3 linked regions of the Homo sapiens genome follow. The protein of the gene in region 1 interacts with the protein of each later gene in a biochemical or structural test. Each region holds a gene or a part of one and is shown on either strand. Other genes may lie near its edges.

Evidence for each region. The genes of interacting proteins can lie anywhere in the genome.
Region 2: the proteins of EIF4E (region 1) and IPO7 form a complex in vitro, tested with the Homo sapiens proteins (one study listed by IntAct).
Region 3: the proteins of EIF4E (region 1) and EIF4EBP3 form a complex in vitro, tested with the Homo sapiens proteins (2 studies listed by IntAct, with this or other methods).

Annotation. Positions count from the first base shown.
Region 1 is NC_000004.12:98,925,798-98,933,557, forward strand, and holds the start of EIF4E (eukaryotic translation initiation factor 4E), read right to left. Parts: upstream 3,337-7,760; 5' UTR 3,316-3,336; coding exon 3,298-3,315; exon of another isoform or gene 3,176-3,297; coding exon of another isoform or gene 3,098-3,175; intron 1-3,097. UniProt on the Homo sapiens protein: Acts in the cytoplasm to initiate and regulate protein synthesis and is required in the nucleus for export of a subset of mRNAs from the nucleus to the cytoplasm which promotes processes such as RNA capping, processing and splicing.
Region 2 is NC_000011.10:9,379,518-9,387,651, reverse strand, and holds the start of IPO7 (importin-7), read right to left. Parts: upstream 3,001-8,134; 5' UTR 2,889-3,000; coding exon 2,805-2,888; intron 1-2,804. UniProt on the Homo sapiens protein: Functions in nuclear protein import, either by acting as autonomous nuclear transport receptor or as an adapter-like protein in association with the importin-beta subunit KPNB1.
Region 3 is NC_000005.10:140,542,519-140,550,076, forward strand, and holds EIF4EBP3 (eukaryotic translation initiation factor 4E-binding protein 3), read left to right. Parts: upstream 1-5,143; 5' UTR 5,144-5,219; coding exon 5,220-5,322; intron 5,323-6,387; coding exon 6,388-6,558; intron 6,559-6,715; coding exon 6,716-6,744; 3' UTR 6,745-7,058; downstream 7,059-7,558. Other genes in the region: ANKHD1-EIF4EBP3 protein, read left to right, coding at 6,388-6,558, 6,716-6,719. UniProt on the Homo sapiens protein: Repressor of translation initiation that regulates EIF4E activity by preventing its assembly into the eIF4F complex: the hypophosphorylated form competes with EIF4G1/EIF4G3 and strongly binds to EIF4E, leading to repression of translation.

The sequences.
Region 1 (7,760 bases):
TAAGAAAAAACATGATTTTTGCAGCCTTCAGCAGGGGTATCTCAAGTACAATCCAATTCTAATCAGTTGCTTCAAAAAAAAATCCAGGCGAGGCTCGGTGGCTCACGCCTGTAACCCAACATATTGAGAGGCCAAGGTGGGAGGACCACTTGAGTCCAGGAGTTTGAGACCAGCCTGGGTAACCATCGCGAGATTCCATCTCTACAAAAAGTTTAAAAATTATCCGGGCGTGGTGGCCTGCTCCTGTAGTGCTTGCTACACCAGAGGCTGAGATGGAAGCATCTCTTGAGCCCAGGAGTTTGAGGCTGCAGTGAGCTATGATCGCGCCACTGCACTCCAGCCCCAGCAACAGAGCAAGATCCTGCACCCCTACACACAAAATCCAACTATTTAAAACTGTCAAAAATAATTCCACATAACTAGCCTGTGCACAAGGGTATATTAAAAGTACTAAAAATTTTCAGGCCAGGCGCGGTGGCTCATGCCTGTAATCCCACCACTTTGGGAGGCCAAGACGGGCGGATCACCTGAGGTCGGGAGTTGAAGACCAGCCTGACCAACATGGAGAAACCCCATCTCTACTAAAAGTACAAAATTAGCCGGGCGTGGTGGCACATGCCTGTAATCCCAGCTACTCGGAAGGCTGAGGCAGGAGAATCGATTGAACCCAGGAGGCGGAGGTTGCGGTGAGCCAAGATCGCGCCATTGCACTCCAGCCTGGGCAACAAGAGTGAAAGTCAGTATCGAAAAAAAAAAAATTCATTTCTCACTAAAACTAAACACTTCGATACTATTTTACATATATTCTCAAAATACTTTAGTTTCCAGCTTCACACACTTTGTTTTTAGGTTCCCCTACTCCCCAAATTTAAACATAACATCCAAATCTCCCAAAGTCTGTACCAGAACAAATACTGTATCACTAACCACATCCCTAGGAATTAAGTTCCTTAAGGGTTTACATTCAACAAGACTCACATCTTGTATAACTTTGTATCCTAAAGAACACTTGGTACAACACCCTGGATATATCAGGAGCTATTAATATTTACTAACTCAAAATATAGTCCTTCATCACTTTGCAGTTCCGCTCTGTGCTGCTGAAACAAAACTGCATAAACTCTGCAAAACTCAAGGGACCTAAATGTGACAGAAACCTCACAGAACTCCTTATTGTTTTATAGTTTACAGTCTCGTAGCCTTGCCCCTATTACCAGATGTAATGCTTTTTACTGACACTAGTGTAGTGGGGTAGGAACAGATCTAGACAAAAGTGGACATCAGAACCTGTCAAGGGGTTTAAAATGTATATTTTACATACTTATTCTTCATTAGTGTTATGTAATATTAATGTCCTAAAGTCAGTTAACTGTAGCAACAACTTATGAGTTTTTCAGTCAATTTAATTCCCAGGAACATAAATGAAAACTGGTGCCAATAAAAAAACAAGTAAGCAAGCAGAGAAGCTGCCTTGAATTTTGACAAGGTAAGGATAGTTTACACCAACGCAATGAAAAATAAGCCTTTGTGTAGTCTATAAGAGTTTTTGAAATAGTTTTATAAAAGTCTTTAAAAGTGCCGGGTGCTGTGGCTCACGCCTGTAATCCCAGCACTTTGGGAGGCTGAGGCGGGAGGATCACTTGAGGTCAGGAGTTTCAGACCAGCCTGGCCAACATGGTGGAACCCCGTCTCTACTAAAAATACAAAAATTAGCCAGGCACGGTTGTGCGCACCTGTAATCCCAGCTACTCAAGAGGCTGAAGCAGGAGAATCGCTTGAACCCGGAGGCGGAGGTTGCAGTGAGCCGAGATCACGCCACTGCACTCCAGCCTGGGCGACAAAGCAAGACTCCATCTCAAAAAAAAAAAAAAAAAAAAAAAAAAAAAAAAGTCTTTAAAAGTCAAAGCAAACTGGTAAACCATTAGCAAAACCACAAGCTACCATGAAAAGATACACAAAAGTATCTGGCAACCAAGGTCTAGAGCTGGTTCCAGAGTGTGAAAGGTTTTCTGATTGCTAATAAACCCCATTATGCACACAAGATATCTTCACTTAGCTGTGTCGTTTCTAAAAAGGCAACAGGGCCCAGAAGTTTCAGTGAGCCAGTCCTGGCAAACCCAAATTATGAAAAATATACCCTCTGCTTAAAGATTAACTACAAACCTACCCTGGGACCAGCTTGCTTCAGTTAAGTTTAAAATGGTGCCTAAATTGAAATGAAAGTCTGTAGCATAGATAAAGAGAAAAAAAAAGTCAAATGGAAAAGTAAATTTAAAAGTTTCTATTTCCAATAAACTGCGTCTCAGAAATCTTCCAGGAGATAAAGACTCGGAAGAACAGAGGGATTGAGACCCATTCGCATTCTCTGAGGCGTGCGCACTACGCGGAAAGGATGAATGAATGGAAGACGGGCGCGTGTGAAATGCAGCAGGTCCGGCCGGCAAGCCGACCGGCTACAGCGATCTGTAGGCCTCGCTCCTCCCCCTTCCCTCCTCCATGACAGCCCAGTCCCAAGCATGGAGGGGCGAGGACAATGTGATACCCCTTCTCACCACCACCATCCCTCATTCTACTTGGAGAGCTTCACCGTGACACACGAGTGTTCCTTCCCACCCCAGACCTTTCTCGCTTCCCCTGGCGCAAACACCGGCAACTCTCCGGCGCGCTGGATTAACAGACGCTCGCCCCTCTCAACTCCCCTAAGCGAGGTCGAAGCTCCTCCGCGCGTGCCGCGGCACCACTCCCGCCTAACCCACCCTCCGGCAACACTCGCCCACCAGCTCCCCAGTCCACCGGTCTAAGGAAGACGTGCGCGCGCCCCGCACCCGAGCCCCGGAGCTGGGGTTCTGCAGGGAGGGAAAGGCTGCTCCAGGGCTCCCTCCTCCATCTCACTCCAGGCCGGCTCGCCGCCCACCCTGCCTGCGGATCCCAGTACTCGCTGGGAGCCGGCCCTGCGCCTTCCTATCATGAAGACACCATCCTCGCATACCCAGCCCAGAACCCCAGCTACCCTCCACCCTGTAGACACCTCGCGGTTCCGCAGGAGGCGCCACGCCGCCCCTCCCCCACACCGCTCCCCCAGTTCTCGGGCCCCCACCAGAAAGTGTGCGCTACACGCCGCCTCGGCCATCCTCCGGGACGTCCCCACTTGTCCGCGGGAGGTCAGGTCCAACATGAAGGGGAAGGGGCGGCAAGGGGTACAGTGCGCGCCGGGAACGCCGTCCCGCGGAGTCCCCCAGTCAGAAGGAAGACGGAGCGCGGGGACCCGTGGGGGTGGGGGCCAAAGGCAATACTCACCGGTTCGACAGTCGCCATCTTAGATCGATCTGATCGCACAACCGCTCCAGAAGGGGGGGTAAGAGGAAAAAAATGAGATTCAAACCGGATTGGCCAGCTTCTGGCCACGTGACGGATATGTCCGTTTGGCCCTGGCGGCACCTGCGCAAGACTGCGGCTGCGTGAGTAACGAGAGGCTTCTGGGAAGTGGAGTCTCTCCCCCACCTTTTTTTTTTTTTTTTTTTTAAGGTAAAGAAATTTTTTTTAAAAAGGACTGGTCACGTGGCCGATGGGTAGGGTGCGCGGTTCTCAACGCGGCGGACACTCGCTTGCTGGAGGGTGGTTTCAGTCCTCTGCTCTTCCGCCTGGATAGCTGCGGTCACACTTACTGCCAGGCAAGCCTACTGTGCCCTTTGTCGCCCTGTCCTCCCATCTTCCCCGGAAGGTTGGGAACTGCAGGCTCAGCACACACAATAAGGCTTCATTTGCTTAGTTGAGGTCCCAGGACAAGTTGCCTGTGTGTTTATTTAGTTTTCTTTTGATCTCCCACCATTTTCTCTTAGTTTCAAAAAGAGGCGGCGATGCAGAGTCGTTTAGGCAATCAACCCTCCCACGTCCCCTGGCTCAGCTAATGCTGGTGGTCATTCGTTGCCATTTCTGCGAAAGGGGACGGACGGAACCGCCCGCAGTACCCGCTTGCCACCGGCTGGACGAGGGGGAGGGACGACAGCTTTTACTGTCCCAAATCCTGAGATTAAGACCTCAGGGCTAAATCTTGCGTGGCGGTAAAAATTATTTGGAAGTTCTGTGCAACCGTTCCAATATTCCGCTTTTACGTGCACGGAAATAGCCTAAGTCCAGATGCCAGCCAGGGAAGCCACTCCGGGCCCCGCTGACTAAGCCCTGGACTGATGGTCTGGAGTCTTTAGGCCGGGTCAACTATGACTCTTGACGTTGACTCATTCTCCTTAGGCGAGTGACTTAATCGCTCGGCGTCTCAGCTTTTTTATTTATGAACCAAAGGTGATGATACACTTACCTCACAAGGGTGTGCTTCGTAATGACTGTAACCGGCTTTGAAAATGCATCGGACTCTAGAAATGATTCATAATAAGCAACTGCGTGCCTTCCTAAAGATCAAGTGCTTCTGCTTTTTTTTTTTAGCAAAGTTTAAATTTTTTTCTGTTTACTTTGTTTGATTATGATGTACACCAGTGTAGTTTTAAATGTTCAGGACCATTTTTTTTCCTTTACAACTGCAGCTGCCCTCAATAGAGGCTTTAATGTTCATGAAATTATTGTTATGCTCACAACAATCACTGGCAATCAGAAATTTGTCCCCACACTGGCATCCTACATTTCCTTTCCCTCTAAGATACTGTGCTGTCATTTCTCAAGACCGTGTTTTTTGCACAGTTTGGCTACTAATAACAACAAATAGAGATGAAGAAATCTAGTAGACTCCTAAGGTTCTAATGAAGAAGACACTGTCTCATTACTATTTCCCATGCTTTTAAATAATGTTGACACCAGGAAAAGGAGTGTATGCAGGCTGCCTGTGCCTGTCTGCTTATAGTGTTAATGAGGTCCAGAGCTGTGTCATACCTATTATTGAGTACATAATGGATGCTTGAGTTGACTAACACATAATTGAGGCTGTATGAGAACTCAAAGCCATTGCCTGTTCATATGTTTTGGTTTACCTGAATATCAGAAGTGATTAATGAAAGCTTTTGTCTAGTGGGCTTAGCTCTACTAGGTTTTAAAGTAGATAGAATTAACAGGCCAGGCGCAGTGGCCCACGCCTGTAATCACAGCCCTTTGGGAGGCCAAGGCGGGCGGATCACCTGAGGTCAGGAGTTCGAGACCAGCCTGACCAACATGGTGAAACCCTGTCTCTACTAAAAATACAAAAATTAGCCAGGCATAGTGGCACCTGCCTGTAGTCTCAGCTACTCAGGAGGCTGAGGCAGGAGAATCACTTGAACCTGGGAGGTGGAGGTTGCAGTGAGCCAAGATCCCGCCACTGCACTCCAGTCTGGGCGACACAGTGAGACTCCATTTCCAAAAAAAAAAAAAAAATGATAATAAACGGATAAGTGGATTTCTACTTACAGAGACTATCTACTGTTACTTAGACTATCCAAAATAATTCTGTTGACCGCGTTGTTATTTTCTGCTGGTTAGAAGTGGTGTCAGGTTACCTTCTTTGAAGAGAAAAAGACAGCATAGATGTCCTATTTTCCCCTTCCCCACCCTTCCCCACCCTTCCTCTCCCTTCCCTACCCTTCCCCTCCCTTCCCTTCCCTTCTCTTCCCCTCCCCTCCCCTGTCCTCCCCTCCCCTCCCTCCCCTCCCCTCCCATTCTCTCTCTCTCTCTCTCTTCCTTCCTTCCTTCCTTCCTTCCTTCCTTCCTTCCTTTCTTTTTGTCTTTTCAGGGTGTTGCTCTGTTACCCAGGCTGGAGTGCAGTGGCATGATTATGGCTCACTGCAGCCTTGACCTTCTGGGTTCAAGGGGTCCTCCCACCTTAGCTTCCCAAGTAGCTAGGACTACAGGCATGGGCCACCATGCCTAGCTAATTTTTTTATATTTTGCAGAGACAGGAGCGTCTAGCTATGTTCCCCAGGCTGGTCTCAAACTCCTGGGCTCAAGCGGTCCCCCTACCTGGGCCTCCCAAAGTGCTGAGATTGCAGGCATGAGCCACCATTCCTGGCCAGATGTCCTATTTTCATGAAGCTGTTATATAACAGCAAAAAATCAATGAGATTGGCAAGAAAATACCTATAGGACTGAAAGCCAGTGATGTTCTTAAAACTTTTTTTAAACAACAGTTTCCATTTTTATTAAATTTTCTGTTAATCAAAAAACTCGGGCCGGGCACGGTGGCTCATGCCTGTAATCCCAGCACTTTGGGAGGCCAAGACGGGCGGATCACGAGGTCAGGAGATCGAGACCATCCTGGCTAACACGGTGAAACCCCGTCTCTACTAAAAATACAAAAATTAGCTGGGCATGGTGGCAGGCGCCTGTAGTCCCAGCTACGCGGCAGGCTGAGGCAGGAGAAAGGAGTGAACCCAGGAGGTGGAGCTTGCAGTGAGCGGACATCGCGCCACTGCACTCCCTCAGTCTCAAAAAAAAAAAAAAAAAAAAAACTCCCTCTTGTCAACCAAGACTCATACTTTTACAATACTTATGGATGCTCTATTCTTTATGGTTTAGTTTCTTTCCATTTTTTACATAGTTTTCAACAATTTTTCTTTATAATTTTCAAGCACAGAGTTTCAGGAAAATCTCCATTTTTGTATATACTTTGTTGTGTGTGTTTTATGACCATTAATGTGTCTTTGCCTATTTGAGATTCTACCATTTCAAAGATTTAACGATTAGGTTTTTATGTATGTGTGTATGTGGTTGTTTTGTTTTGTTTTTGCCAATCCTAAATATATAGAGCTGAAATTTTATGTTTTATTTCTCTATTTATTCTCTATTATTCTTTATTGCTCTTCAAAGGACTTGTAATTCCAAGTTCATTTACAGAACTGACCAGAAACCATCCAACAAGTACTAAGTTAGTAATGGGAACTATGTAACCAGTGGAGGATATTTAAAGGACACAGGAAGTACAGGCACTTCCTTCCCCGACTGTAAAATCTGGTTGGCGTACTAAGTCATAGAAATATAAATAGTTCAGTACCCATATAAAGAGGTGTGACTAAGAACCAAGAGGATGCAGTTAACAAGCACCATAACCAGCACACATTCACATAATGAATGAGCGAATCATATACTTCCTTCCCTCATTTCATCCAGGCCTCTGTTCCAATGTGATCTCCTGAAGGAAGGCTTCCTTGACCACCCTATCTAAATTACTGTTTCCATTACTCTTTATCCCCTCACTCTGCTTTGGTTTTCTTTAGGCCACTTCATAACCCTAACTCTAAACTTGCTGTTAAACATTATTTAATTAGTTGTTGATTGACCCTACTACTAAAATATTAGCTCATTGATGATTTGTAGATAGATTGCTATCAAATATTTGGGGAAAACTCAAATGTAATTTTTTTTTCCCGAGATGCAGTCTCACTCTGTTGCCCAGATCTTGGCTCACTGCAACCTCTGCTTCCTGGGTTCAAGCGATCCTCCTGCCTCAGCCTCCCAAATAGCTGGGACTACAGGTGCGTGCCACCACACCTGGCTAACTTTTGTATTTTTAGTAGAGATGGCCAGCCTGGTCTCGAACTCCTGACTTCGTGATCTGCCCGCCTCGGCCTGCCAAAGTGCTGGGATTACAGGCCTGAGCCACTGTGAACCCTTATTTTAATTTTACAGTTTGAGAGACACCAATTCCCATTACCTACTCAGGACATTGCTTAAAAACATGGGATGTACGCAAACATGACCAAGGAATTTTGAATATTAAAAGATTGGAGCAGAATTGGAATTTAAAAAATTATTTTATTATTCTAGTTAGTTTTTTGTTTACT
Region 2 (8,134 bases), on another chromosome or scaffold:
CCATGTTGGTCAGGCTGGTCTCAAACTCCCAACCTCAAGTGATCAGTCCGCCTCAGCCTCACAAAATGCTGGGATTACAGGCGTGAGCCACCGTGCCTGGCCAAATAAAATTAATTTTAAAAGTAAGCCAAATATGTATGACAAATCAGTGCTATAGAGAAAAACAAGTGAAAGGAGATAGGGAGTATGATGGTCAAGGAACTCCTCAGTGATAAGGAGACATTTGAACAGGGATGGAAGGAAATGAGAGAACAAGTTAGGGGGATAACTATGTGAAAGGAGTTCCAAGGAGTTAAGTGCAAAGACTCTGAGGCAGAAGGGCTATTTTGTTTCGAAACTGTCTATACTATAAACACTTTAATAACATTTACAAATTTTACATTGAGTCAGTGATTATTTCACTTTGTGAAGAGATTCATTCAAATGTCAATGATCTTATTCTTTGGTTCTAAATGAACCAAAACACAGCTTCACTGGAATGAGAGACATCATAGAATAATTCGTTCTTCTATCTTCTCCAAAGCAAGAGCCTTTCAGAAATGTTACTTCCTCATTCTTAACAATATTCAAGACTTGTCTGAGATCTGTCTCCCAAATCAATGTTCTGCCACAAGAAAGTCAAAGCAAAAAATATTTAAATGGAAGAAGGGAGAGGGAGAAGTAGTGTATTAAAATGGAATGAAAGTAAATATACTAATAGAAAATTTACCTTAGGAAGAATATTTAAAAATCTAGGTGTTATAATTGAAAGAAATGTATGAAATGTAAATAGTTAAGGATTACAAAAATAAAGGCCATGTAACAAATTTTCTTTGACAGATTAGCGGTGTTCACTGTTTGACAGTATTCCAAAACAGTAGTTTAATGGTTAAGTAAAAAAGGCATTGAATACTATTTTGATCATTTGTTTATCTTCCAAAAACTAGCTTGTGAAATACCCCAGGTTTCTACTACAAGATGTTAGTGCATATACTAGACATGTAATGTCTATTTGAGGAATAAATGAATTTCAGATTTTCAGGAAGTATTATTTCCCCCATTTTTGTAGAAGCAAACCAACTCTTCAAGTACTCACTTTTAAAATTAATAATTACATGCAAGTATAATTAGTCAAAATAATACGCGATTAGAGCAAAGTCATGGTAGAAATGACCATGACTAAACTTTTAGCTTTTCTAGGCTTGTAACTGCATTACTATTTAATAAGCAAAATAATTTTCAACTTAACCCATGTCTATCACTAAGCAAATCAAAACAAAAAGTGATCCATTGCTCCTTCCATAGTTTGGTAATGGTTCAAAATGGTAATACGGTTCAACTCACTATTTTATATCCAAAAAAATCTAAGCTCCTCCCAAGGTGACTCTGAGTCTAAAAATTTGAACATGTAATCATCACTTTGTGTGGTATAATAATGATCTCATTTACATATAAAATAGATTTAACATTCTGAAATAATTTTACATTTAATTTGTGTAAACTCTGTAGGTAGTCTTCTTGAACTGTAAGTTCCGTGAGGGCAGGGATCTCTAGTGCAGCCCTTTACACTGAAAGTCCAGTTAGTAATATTTCTGCTGTTTCTGGTAAGTCAATATAAACAATGTTTTTAAATTATTTACTTACCAGCTAAAAGACGCATAAAATAGTTGAATTTCTATTTTAAAGTGTGATTTCTTTTTCAGTTAAAAAATGTACACTAAAGTTCAGTAAAGCTGGCAGATTCAGCAGCATGCTGAAGGACAGTTACTAACTGGCAGAAAAGTTACAGCAGCCCTTTTAAGAAGGATTTAAAATACTGATCATTAATACGTAAAAATGCAAAAGTTTAGAAACAAAGAATGACACTGGAGATAGTACAATAAATATTCATGCAATTAAGCTGTTTTCCAAGGAGCGGTCCCCACAAAATATGGGGGAAAAAAAAAACCTTCAGAGAATGCAATATCTGAACTGATAAGGAGCTCAGCATGTTCCAAGGCACTCAGACTTAACATTATCTCACCTGTCTGTCACAGCAACTCTGTGGCGTAATTTTATGAATGGGAAAAACTCAGGATCAAGAGGTTAAGCGACTGGCCCAAGGTCACTCAAGGAATCAATGGTGCAGCTATACCTAGAAGGGTGCACTTCACCTGATCCTTCCCACTACATAAGCCAGCTCCCCGACTGAAGCATTAGGACAGCGGAAAAGCAGGGATCAGACTCTGTGAGTGTCCCGCACTACTCCTATCCTGCCAAGGAGGCGCGGGCTTGCCTTTGAAAGCCTTCCCTAGCAACTCAGCCAGAGAGGAGGAAGTTGTGCCCGAGGCAGGCCACTGATCAGCCCAGCAAAGTGACAAGGATGACAGGCGCAGCCCCCAAAGGACCAGCCGGCATTCCCAGGAGCCCTTCCAAACCCTGCGACGGCGAGACTGGTCTCAGAAACATCTGAAAAACCTCCCAGTAAGTTTCGCCCCCTCCTGGACGTGAGGAACCAGCTGGGAATGAGCCAGAGGTCGGCCAGCCACCCGAGCCAGCCATGTGTCCAACCCGTCACGCCCGCCCCGCCTCAGCCGGCTCCTCATGCCTAGACCGCAGCCAGAGGCCCAGCTCAGGATCCGAAGCAAAGGCAGCCTTGGCTGCAGCCACCACCACCACACCACACCGAGGCGCCCCGGCGTGGAAGTCGCCGTCAGATGTCCGCCCCACCCTCCTGCTGGGACCCTCAACGACGTCGTCCGCGCCTCCGGCCAGGCCCCGGGGGCTCGGCCTGCCACTTCTGCCCACCCGCCTGCCCGCCGCCACCGCTAGCCGGGCGTCCTTACTTCATTGAGCTGGCGCTCCGCGGCCTCACGCAGGGCTGGGTCCATAGTGCCCCGCAGGGCCTCGATAATGGTGTTGGGGTCCATCGCAGCGCGGACTCGGTCAAACCCGGGGCTCGGGTGCTACTGGGCCAGGAATAGCGCCACTCACTGCGCACATGGACCCGCCGCGCTCCGCAGCGGCAACCGGCGCGAAAGGAAAGAGAAGCGCCAAGGCCCCGGATAGAACCTCTTCGCCTCGGCGTGGAGGCGGGAGATGCTCCGGCGACTTCCTGTGGGCGCGCCTGCGGAGCACTTTGGGAGATGTAGTCCACAAACACAGTCCGCAGCCCACGTGGCTGCCTGAGCTGTCGTTCCTACAGACAAGTCTTTCTGTTCAAAAACGAAAAATGTTCAAGTTCCACAAAAAGAAAAGCAAAACAATCAGTTACAAAAGGTTTCACATACTATATCCACAATGTTCATAAAGGGAGTCAGATACAGTGTGTGGTGCAATCGATTGCTAATGGCTGCGTGATTGAAGGAAACTTTCTGAAAAGCAATTTGAGATGTGTTTCTGATAGCCACTAAAATATTTAAACTGCCGGGCGCGGTGGTTCACGCCTGTAATCCCAGCACTTTGGGAGGCCAAGGCGGGCGGATCACGAGATCAGGAGATCGAGAGCATCCTGGCTAACACGGCGAAACCCCGTTTCTACTAAAAATACAAAAAATTAGCCGGGCGTGGTGGCACGCGCCTGTAGTCTCAGCTACTAGGGAGGCTGAGGCAGGAGAATCGCTTGAACCCGGGAAGCGGAGGTTGCAGTGAGCCGAGATCGTGCCATTGCACTCCAGCTTGGGCAACAAGAGCGAAACTCCGTCTCAAAAAAACAAAACGAAACGAAATGTTTAAACTCTGACCCAGTAATTCCACTTATGAGACTTTATCCTAAGGCAATAACACGGAAGATTAAATGAACTTTATGTGTGAAAGGTTTTTATCACATTACGTATTAGTAATTACCAAATACTGAAATCATGGCTTTTTATTGAGTATCCAAATTTTAGTTGGGACTTCATATAAATCACCTCTTAATGCAGAGTAAAAGCATAATCCCTATTAAAATACACCTTCCTGCCAGGCGCGGTGGCTCACACCTGTAATCCCAGCACTTTGGGAGGCCAAGGTGGGCGGATCACAAGGTCAGGAGATTGAGACCATCCTAGCTAACACGGTGAAGCCCCGTCTCTACTAAAAATACAAAAAATTAGCCGGGTGTGGTGGTGGGCGCCTGTAGTCCCAGCTACACTGAGGCAGGAGAATGGCGTGAATCCAGGAGGTGGAGCTTGCAGTGAGCCGAGATCATGCCACTGCACTCCAGCCTGGGTGACAGAGCGAGACTCTATCTCAAAAATAAATAAATAAATAAATAAAAATAAAAGACACCTTCCTAGCCAGGCGTAATCCTCCTGTTGAGGCAGGAGGATTGCTTGAGACCAGAAGTTCAAGGTGACAGCCTGTTAAGATCGTGCCTATGAGTAGCCACTACGCTACAGCCTGGGCTACATAGCGAGACCCCATCTCTAAAAAAAGAGGGAGGTGGGGGAGAAAGAAAGAAAGAAAAAGTCCTCTTTTATAACAGCCAAGAAAAAGTTTGTTTTAGAAAGGTTAAATAACTTACCCAAGGTCACGTAGTAAGAGGTTCAACTAAGATTTCAAACCTAAGATCTTTGTTTTCAAACTTTCCATTGTTTCCACTAAATCACTCTGCCTCTGAAGAGAAATGTTGAACAATATAGGACTGGTTAAGCAAATAGCAAGAATCCAGTAAATTAAATATTTCACAGCCATTAAAAAATATAACAAAAAAGTATTTATGGAAGGATATAGCTTTGTAACATGGACAAAGACTGAAAAGCAAGGTTAGCAAATGAAAATAATTTATTTTCTATTAACAGGATGGTGAGATTTGGAGTAATTTCCTTTCATATCTGTTATTATTGTAACAAAGTTATATAAACAGATATACTTAAAATTAATTATAAGCCTTCAAATACAATGTGTTAAATGATCACTTATTGTTTTTAATTTACAAAAAAAAGAGAAGGAAAGGCTCACGAAAGCCTTTCCCTGAAGCGGTGGGTTTTGCAATGTTACTACCTTGTATATGCCAGCCACTGTGCCTGGAAGTACTGGAAGTAAGACAGAATTATTCCTAATTTAGGCCGGGCATGGTGGCTCACAACCGTAACCACAGCAATTTGAGAGGCTGAGGTGGGCGGGATCACCTGAGGTCAAGAGTTCGAGACCAGCCTGGCCAACATGGCAAAACCCCATCTCTACTAAAAATACAAAAATTGCCTGGCCCGGTGGCTCACGCCTGTAATCCCAGCACTTTGGGAGGCCAAGGCGGGCGGATTACGAGGTCAGGAGATCGAGATCATCCTGGCTAACACAGTGAAACCCTCTCTCTACTAAAAATACAAAAAAGACCGGGCGCGGTGGCTCACGCCTGTAATCCCAGCACTTTGGGAGGCCGAGGCGGGCGGATCACAAGGTCAGGAGATCGAAACCATCCTGACTAACATGGTGAAACCTTGTCTCTACTGAAAATACAAAAAATTAGCCGAGCGCGGTAGCGGGCGCCTGTAGTCCCAGCTGCTCGGGAGGCTGAGGCAGGAGAATGGCGCGAACCCGAGAGGCGGAGCTTGCAGTGAGCCAAGATCGCGCCACTGCACTCCAGCCTGGCGGACAGAGCCAGACTCCGTCTCAAAAAAAATAAAAAATAAAAAATAAAATAAATAAATAAATAAAAATAAAAATACAAAAAAATTAGCCGGGCGTGGTGGCCGGTGCCTGTAGTCCCAGCTACTCGGGAGGCTGAGGCAGGAGAATGGCGTAACCCGGGGAGTGGAGCTTGCAGTGAGTCGAGATCGGGCCACTGCATTCCAGCCTGGGCGACTGAGCAAGACTCTGTCTCAAAAAAAAAAAAAAAATTAGCCAGGCATGGTGGTGCTCACCTGTAATCCCAGATACTCAGGAGGCTGAGGCAGGAGAATCACCTGGACCAGGGAGGCAGAGGTTGCAGTGAGCTGAGATCGCACCAGTGCACTCCAGCCTGGGCAACAGAGCAAGACTCCGTCTCAAAAAAAAAAAATTTACAAATGAAGAACCCGAGGCTCAGGCTACTTAAATTGTGAGGAGTCAGAAAGTTTTCATAATAATAACCTGTAAAAAGTGTAATAGTGTTACAAATACAATCTGTTTAAGAATTTTCCTCTCCCTGAATTGTTTGAACCCGGAAGGCGGAGGTTGCAGTGAGCTGAGATCGTGCCATTGCACTCCAGCCTGGGCAACAAGAGTGAAACGCCGTCTCAGAAATAAAAAGAATTTTCCTCTCCCTGCTCCACTGCTCAAAGTGAAGGCCTTGAAAACAGGCTTATGTTCTATTGACCTTTGTATCCTCACCTCCTACCACAGAGTTAGAATGTAAAGGAGGAGTTTAAAAAATTCTTTAAGTGAATAAATGAAGAAAGGAATTAATAAACTAGTAATGACTTATAGGTGGCTGAGCCAGAATTGAAGCTTCATTCTTCATGATTCAAAAGCTAGTCCTCTTTCTGATATTATATGCCTATTTTAGATTCCAGAATTGACTTGTTTATCACGGAATTGTGAAGATTTTAGCAGAGCACAATGTATATGAAAGAACCTGGCACATAGAAGGTAGTCCAAAAATGTTAGTTTCCTCTCCCTAAAACTGAAAGGGAAAAGAAGTGGTAGTGAAAAATATGGTTTTAAGCTGTAGTGCTGGGAACAGGGAGCCAACGAGGCTTGCAGATCTACAGCTGGCATGGGGCCTGTGTCTCATCCTTCATAGAGAACAGAGCACACTGGGTACAAGATCCTGTCTGGGGAGCCAGCATTCCTGTATCCAAAAAAGGAGCTTGGCCCCAGGGAGCATTCAGGAGCTAGTTGGTAGAGTGATTAGCACACTCAACCTATTTGTAGATTTTAGTTTTATTTTGTCAAGCTAGTGACACAGAGAATGTGACTTACGTGACTGGAAATTTCAGTGTGAACTCCTCTAGGGCAGAGACCACATCCATCTTTTTTGTGGTAGACACAGAAATGAATGAGTGCTCAATAAATAAGTATGAGAAGACTAATGAAAAAAGTGGTTTGTTAAGCCACTGTAAACACAATTACATAACCTTATGGTGTCCCACAATCCCAATCCCCAGCACAGCAGCCAACACAGGTATCTAAGCCTCCTTAGGCAAGGTGAAGGCTGAGAATTCAGAAAAGCATAAACCATAGTCTCAGAGTTGATTTTGAGGTAGGATGAAATTAGACAAAAATTAAGAAGAGATGCGGCCGGGCACAGTGGCTCCTCATGCCTGTAATCTCAGCACTTTGGGAGGCCGAGGCTGGCAGATCACGAGGTTGGAGAGTTAGAGACCACCCTTGCCAACATGGTGAAACCCCATCTCTACTAAAAATACAAAACTCAGCTAGACATGGTGGCGTGCACCTGTAGTCCCAGCTACTCAAGAGGATGAAGCAGAAGAATTGCTTGAACCCAGGAGGTGGAGGTTGGTTGCAGTGAGCCGAGATCACACCACTGCACTCCATCCTGGCGACAGAGTGAGATCCGTCTCAAAAAAAAAAAAAAAAAAAAAAAAGAAGAAGAAGAAGAAGAAGAGCTGGGCCTGACTCAGTGGCTCACACCTTTAATCCCAGCACTTTGGGAGGCCAAGGCAGGTGGATCACCTGAGGTCAGGAGTTCAAGACCAGCCTGGCCAACATGGTGAAACTCCATTTCTAGTAAAAATAAAAAAATTACCACAGTGTGGTGGTGCGTGCCTGTAATCCCAGCTACTTGGGAGGCTGAGGTGGGAGAATCTTTTGAACCTGGTAGGCGGAGGTTGCAGTGACCTGAGATCGCACCACTGCACGCCAGCCTGGGAGACACATTGAGACTCCATCTCAAAAAAGAAAAAAAAAGATAGTTATACCATAAGGGAATGGAAAGAATTAGTGTTCCCTTTACAGGCCCCCATTGGGGCTTTTGTGGGTAAATGCCAATGACGAGACCCTTGATGATAATTGACACGGAAAAAGTTCCCTCGTCCCCCTCTCAGAGTCTGAGATGGCGGTGTGGCTCCCTTCTTCAGTGCCTCACTGCTCAAACCTCTCAGGGAACATACAGACGGGTAAGGCTGTGGGGCTCTGAACCCACAGCAGTGTCTACTGGTGAATGTTTACAGTTCCTAAAGCCCCAGTGGGTGTGTGTTATAGGATGCTCTTTTAGTTTTGCTGTCTATAGGTGGCTTGTGTTAACCAGCTCAAT
Region 3 (7,558 bases), on another chromosome or scaffold:
CCCCATCTCTACTAAAAATACAAAAGTTAGCCAGGTGTGGTGGCATGTGCCTGTAATCCCAGCTACTCAGCAGGCTGAGGCAGGAGAATCGCTAGAACCCAGGAGGTGGAAGCTGCAGTGAGCCAAGATCACGCTACTGCACTCCAGCCTGGGCAACAGAGCAAGACTCTCTCTCAAAAAAAAAAAAAAGAAAAGAAAAGAAAAGAAAGGGAAAGGCTGGCTACATTATAATTTCAAGCCAGAGAGAGGAGTACTTAGTATATGTGGTTCCTTCCCACTGTTTAAGACCTTTGGGGCCGGGTGCGGTGGCTCATGCCTGTAATCCCAGCACTTTGGGAGGCTGAAGCGGGTGGATCACCTGAGGTCAGGAGTTCGAGACCAGTCTGGGCAACATGGTGAAACCCCGTCTCTACTAAAAATACAAAAATTAGCCGGGCGTGGTGGCATGCACCTGTAATCCCAGCTACTCAGAAGGCTGAGGCAGGAGAATCGCCTGAACCCAGGAGGCGGAGGTTGCAGTGAGCTGAGATCATGCCATTGCACTCCAGCCTGGGTGACAAGAACGAGACTTCGTCTCAAAAAAAAAAAAAAAAAAGACCTTTGGACCACATTGTAAATCCAAGAAAAGGCAAGCAAGCTTGTAGGAAAACAGCTTCTGAATGAACATCTTGTTCTCTGACTAGCAAGAAGTATTTCTACCAAGACATACAACTGGTTATGATGTCTTCCCAGTGGACCCTGCCCCCTATAGTGAGGGGCTCTGGTAATGCTGCATTTTCTATTTATCCTCAGTGATTTGTCATTTGCAAACAGGCAGGTTCATGCGCCTCCATCCTCTCCTTTAGGCAATGGGTGAGAGAAAGGTGGTTTTAAGCATCAAAAACTTAAGTGTGTTAAGACCACCTCCAATAAAAGGCATGACCCTGGGCTTCAACACCTAATTTGGAAAAGATCATGAATCAGACGATCTTGTTTGCAAACCTATTTTGTGATTACTTTTCACATTCTGTTTTATCTTGATGGTATATTAATGTGAATCCAAAGTAATTTGCCTGATAACAGAGACCTGGTATTTCCTTATAGGCTTAATCAGATCTCTGGGGGTGGGGCCTGGGCATAGGTATTTTTTTTAAACACTTCCATATTCTAATAGGTAATTAGTTGTTTTTTGTTTTTTGTTTTTTAATGAGACAGAGTCTCACTCTGTTGCTTAGGCTGGAGTGCAGTGGCGCCATGTTGGCTCACTGCAACCTCCGCCTCCTGAGTTCAAGCAATTCTCCTGCCTCAGCCTCCCAAGTAGCTGGGATTACAGGTGCACACCACCACACTTGGCTAATTTTTGTATTTTTAGTAGAGATGGGGTTTCTCCATGTTTGCCAGGCTGGTCTTGAACTCCTGACCTCAAGTGATTTGCCCGCCTCAGCCTCCCAGAGTGCTGGGATTACAGGCGTGAACCGCCTTGCCCAGCCAGTAATTAGTATTGACCCTCTGATTTAAATTCTTGTTTCTTCATCCAGATTGCATGGATGATGAATCTGGCTTTCTCTCTAAAGCCAATTACCTATTCCCCAGCCCTTACAGCACACAGTGACTCCAGAAGAGTTAGCTGCAAGCAGTAGTCATTATAGTAGTAGTAACTGTGGCTATTATTTTGTGGTAGAGATTAGTAGAAGGAAGACCTCACTTCGACAATGACCGTTCTTGAAAACTTTTGATACTTTTCTCCTGATTTTCCTATTTCCGACTCATCTTTCTCAGTCTCTTTTGGTGAATTCTTTTTCTCTACTATCTTTTAAATAAATAAATGTTGATGTGCCCAGGCTTCTACACTGTATCTTCTCCCCAGATGATCTCATCCCACATTTATTTATTTATAAATAGAGATAGGGTCTTGCTGTATTGCCCAGGTCTTGAGCTCCTGGGCTCAAGCGGTCCTCCCACCTCAGCCTCCCAAAATGCCAGAATTAACAGATGTGAGCTACCGATCCTAGCCCATCCCCACACTCTTGAATTTCACACCACCCAAATTTGAGCCACTAACTCAGAGTTCTCCCCATGGCTTCACTATATCTAGCTTCCTCCTGTGCTCCATCTGAACACATATTATTCATTCCCTCATATAAGATATGCTGCTCTTCTTGTTTTCCCTATCATATTAGTTGGTGCTACTAGCCACCAAGACTCTCAAGCCAAAAGACTGAAAATTATCCTAGTTTACACTTTCCCTCACCCCACTCTTAATCAGTCACTTTATTCTTCCTCTGTGTATCTGAATCTCATCCACTTCTCTCCATCCTCACAGCCATCGCCCGTTTGCCCACCTGGTTTCACTAGACTGGACTCTACCCTCAAATCTCACCATCCTCCACCCTATTCTCCCATTCCCCCTGTCAGACACTTCCTCACGTTGCATAAAAGGTTAGTTATCATAAATGATTCACTACAATCTGTTCCCAAGCTTTACCCTCCAGCACTGCTAAGACACTTCATTTTGGCATGCACCATTTTGTAAGATACTCAAAATCCTTTTCGGGACAATAAAATATACATACCCTTGATACCTGAAGTGTGTTTCTGAGGCCCTGAAGCGTTTGCATTACTGTATTAAAAACTCACAGTTGCAGTCAGGCCCGGTGGCTCATGCCTGTAACTCCAGCACTTTGGGAGGCCAAGCCAGGCAGATCACTGGAGATCAGGAGTTCGAGACCAGCTTGGCCAAGATAGTGAAACCTGATGTCTGCTAAAAATACAAAAAATTAGCCCGGTGCGGTGGTGGGTTCCTGTAATTCCAGCTACTCAGGAGGCTGAGGCAGGAGAATCGCTTGAACCCAGGAGGCAGAGGTTGCAGTGAGCTGAGATCATGCCACTGAACTCTAGCCTGGGTGACAGAGCAAGACTCCATCTTAAAAAAAAAAAAAAACCAGCCAGGTGTGGTGGCTTATGCCTGTAATCGTAGCACTTTGGGAGGCCGAGGCAGGCTGATCACCTGAGGTCGGGAGTTCAAGACCAGCCTGACCAACATGGAGAAACTCTGTTTCTACTAAAATTACAAAATTAGCTGGGTGTGGTGGTACATGCCTGTAATCCCAACTACTCAGGAGGCTGAGGCAGGAGAATCGCTTAAACCCGGGAATCGGAGGTTGCGGTGAGCCAAGATCATGCCATTTGGGCGGCAAGAGCGAAACTCCATCTCAAAAAAAAAAAAAAAAAATCCACAACTGGCTGGGCACGGTGGCTCATGCCTGTAATTCTTGTTTCGGAGGATGCCTGTTTGGGAGGATCGCTTGGGCCCACAAGTTTGAGACCAGCCTGGGCAACATAGTGAGACCCCGCCTTTACAAAAAATTTAAAAATTAGCCAGGTACAGTGGCATGCACCTGTGGTCCCAGCTATTGAGGACACTGAAGTGGGAGGGTCACCTGAGCCCAGGAGGTTGAGGCTGCAGTGAGCCATGATTGTACCACTACACTCCAGCTTGGGTGACAGTGAGACCCTGTGTCAAAAAAAAAAAAAAATCCAAAATCTCACCCAGACCAATACTGTATCAGAATTATCATTTTAACAATATCTCCAGATGATTTATATGCACATTAAAGTTTGAGAAGCTGGCCAGGTGTGGTGGCTCACACCAGCACTTTGGGAGGCCGAGGCAGATAGGTTACTTGAGCTCAGGAATTCGAGACCAGCCTGGGCAACATGGTGAAACCTTGTCTCTATAAAAAATCCAAAAATTAGCCCGGTGTGGTGGTGGGCACCTGTGGTCCCAGCTACTCAGGAGGCTGAGGTGGGAGGATGGCCTGAACCCAGGAGGCAGAGTTTGCATTGAGCTGAGATTACACCACTGCATTCCAGCCTAGGCAGCAGAGCAAAACCCTATCTCAGAAAATAAATAGTTTGAGAAGCAATCTTTTTTTAAATGAGTGAAGAAATCAGACCTAAGGAGAAATCTGATGAAGCCAGAGCTGAGTTAATATTGATAAATGGATGCAGTCAGGTGGTCTATACTTAATTTTTGGTGAGGGGAAGGGACAGTGGAGGCAGTATTGATTTTGAGGAAGCCAAACAGGACAGCCTGATGAATTCAAGATTTCCAGCATATATACATCTTCACCAATCCCACCACCTTGCTCCAGCCTGTCATATCACTGTGTCTACATAAAAAAAAAAAACAAAAAAAAAACTCCAAGGCCAAACTCTCTGACCTTTCTTTCCTTCTAAAGACCAAGCCCTCCTCACTAGCCCCCTGCCCCTCCTTAGTTAACTGGCAAAGAGATCAAAGGGCAGGCCTTCTGACTGGTGATGCCTCAGCTGTAGCCCCCAAACTTGACTCATCCTTTTATTAGTCCAGGTACCACTTCTTCAGAAAGATGACCAGCCCTCACTGACCTTCCCCTTCCTGCTGTGCTCCAGGCCATCAAGGCATGTGTCACCCAGGCTGGAGTGCAGTGGTGCAATCTCCGCTCACTGCAACCTCCGCCTCCTGGGTTCAACCTATCCTTCCACCTCAGCTTCCCGAGTAGCTGGGTCTACAGGCGCATGCTGCCGCACCCGGCTAATTTTTGTATTTTTAGTAGAGTCTAGGTTTCACCATGTTGCCCAGGCTGGTCTCAGACTCCTGGGCTCAAGCTATCCACCCGCCTTAGCCTCCCAAAGTGCTGGGATTACAGGCCGTGAGCCACCGCACCCGGCCTTGTACTGTTACTGTTTATGGGAGGCAGTACACAGCTGGGCTTAAGGGCACAGTCCTGGAATCAGATGCAGTCAGATTTGAATCCCAGCTTCCCTTCCTGCAAGATGTGTGACTTTGGCTAATCATAGTGCTTTACTATCCAAAAGTTGGCAAGGAATGGGTGAACTAATACAGGATAAAAACGCTTGCCCTACTTCACCTGCCCCCAGCTCCCGGCTATAAACAGTAAATAGCTGAGCTGCTGCAGCACTCAGGCAGGTTGGCCAGCGCTGGGCCAGCAGGAACTGGAAGCTGGTGTGGGGCCTGGGACTTTGGACGCATTTCCAGCTTTCTCTGAACCGGGCTGGCTTCCTAGCAGATAGGGCGGGACCGTCGGGTTGAGTGACGGCCGGTGGCCCGCCCTGGGCGTGACGTTGTTCTAGTGTTGTTGCCAGCAGCTGCACGTGGTCGGCTGAGTCCGCCTCAGACTCAGAGCTGCGCTCCTCGACCTCAACGCCAGGCGGTTACTTTGCTGCTCCTCCCGCTCGCTATGTCAACGTCCACTAGCTGCCCGATTCCCGGGGGCCGGGACCAGCTGCCCGACTGCTACAGCACCACGCCGGGGGGCACGCTATACGCCACTACCCCCGGAGGTCAGCGGGCCGGGCAGGGGTCCGCAGGCTGCGGACATATTAGCGCGTGCGTGTTGTTGCGGGGCGGGGGTAGGGGAGGGACAGACCTAAGACTTGTCCGCAGGCCCCTCTACAGGTTGTAGCTTTGGGGGAGAATGTTTGGAGCGGAAGCTCAGTTCCCAAAAACTTCTAAGTGATGCAACAAGGCCATGAGCCTAGCTTCCGGGTGTTTGGGCTGTAATCCTTCACTGTGGCCTGGGTTCTTGGAGCCTTACACACGCTCCTTACCCCTCGCGACTTTGCTTCCTAGGAATAGGGGCCAGGGCCCCCTACTGAGCGTGACCTCAGCCGGAAGCACCGGGTCTTGAGAAGTGGAGTAGTTAGAACAGTTGGGGCAGTTGCTCCGTTTTTGTGCTGCTGGCTGGCGTCTGTTTGGTTGGGCGAGCAGCCTGGGATCACGAGCTGCTGGGCTCCCGACCCAGGGATTCCTGCCACGCGGAAGCGGAGGGGAGGAACAGGGCAGGACCCTTTGAGGACATTATGCGGGCCAAGTTCCTCTGAGCTAGTGTGAACCTTATAGGACCTGGGAGGGGTCAGGATTAGAACAGTACGTTTCTCCTCCCTGCAGGAGATAGCCCAGGTAACAGCACTGGGTGGAACCCTTCACAACTGCTATTTCACTTCTTGAACCACCTGAGGCTGTTAGTCTAGGTCTCACCTTCACTGGTGAGACCAAAGCAGAGGTTTCAGAGTGGTAGAGGAGCAGCATGAAGTACCTGAACTCAAAGTTTGGTGTTCCTCTTAGAGCCAAGATCTGAAGCTCTCCCAAACATAAAGCCCCTGCCTATACCAGCTGGGATGCCCCCCTTGCTTTATACCCACATCTTGGTTAGGTCTGGAAGATTTTAAGCACTATGAAGGCTTGTCTGCTGAGAACCTAGCTGGGCTTCAGAGCCGATGTCCTTTGATACACAGGGAAATTTGACACCACCCTCACCTCCAGGCCCCAAAAGGCCTGAGTCTGGGACCCCAGTCACCTCGGTACCCAAGCTCCTGACTCTTACCTCAGTCCCAACCCCTTGACAGGCACCAGGATCATCTACGACCGAAAGTTCCTGCTGGAGTGCAAGAACTCACCCATTGCCCGGACACCCCCCTGCTGCCTCCCTCAGATTCCCGGGGTCACAACTCCTCCAACAGCCCCTCTCTCCAAGCTGGAGGAGCTGAAGGAGCAGGAGACAGAGGAAGAGATACCCGGTAAGGAAAGCAGGAATTAAGAATTGTCCCAGCCTTTGAGTTCAAATGCCACTGTGACACAGTGCGGGGGTTCAGTTCCAAGAGGGGTTTCTGCACTGATGCTGAGCCTGCAGATCCTCAGACCAGCAACCTGTCTTCCTGCCTTTTCTCTCTCCAGATGACGCACAATTTGAAATGGACATCTAATCCAGTGCAGATGACCTGGCATGTGGAGTTACAGAGGGATCCCTCATGCCACTGCTGCCACCACCTCTTCCTGGGGCATCCAAAGGCCAGCTGGCCTCATCTAATCTGGAAGGGAGTGACTTGTTAGTTCCAGGCCTCCTTTAGTTCTGAGGCAGCTAGACCAGGGATAGGAGTGGGCAACTTGCCAAGCCCTTAACTCTACTTCCTCTTCAGTCTGTGGTACTCCTCCTAACCCTAAACCCTCTATGCTCAGGGGCTGGAACTGGGGAATGGAGTAAGTCACCTTCTGACTGCTTAGTAAACATTCAAAGAAATGCCTTGGCTCCAGTGTTCTCCTCAATGCTGATTTTCTCATCTCAGCCACACAGCTGAAGGCCCTGGCAGGCCTGGTTAAGCTCAGAGGCCTCAGATCATTCCCAGCTCCCACCAGGCCCACTTCCAGCAGCAATTAGAACCTGAGGCACGCTACAGTGGCAGGTTACATGAGCCTCCAAACCATAAACAGCAATAGCTTGGCCACTGCCAAGGGCTGTTCCTGTCTTCCCAGGAAGCAGCCTTCCTGGAACCAGGGCCCCCCAGCAGCCCCTCCCCTATCCATTCCAAAGCAGGACTCTTGGAAAAGAGGTGCTGTCCCAGCCTATAGCCATCCTGTCTCTCCCTGTGCCTTTTCTGCTTCCCACCTCTAAGCACCAGTTCCTCTATTCCAACACCAAAAACCTTGTACCCTTCTCACAGCATGATAGTCCACCAAGTACCTCTCTCAAAGGGTTACAAGAGACCTTAGAGTTCACACTGAAACCCAAAATGAGGCAGC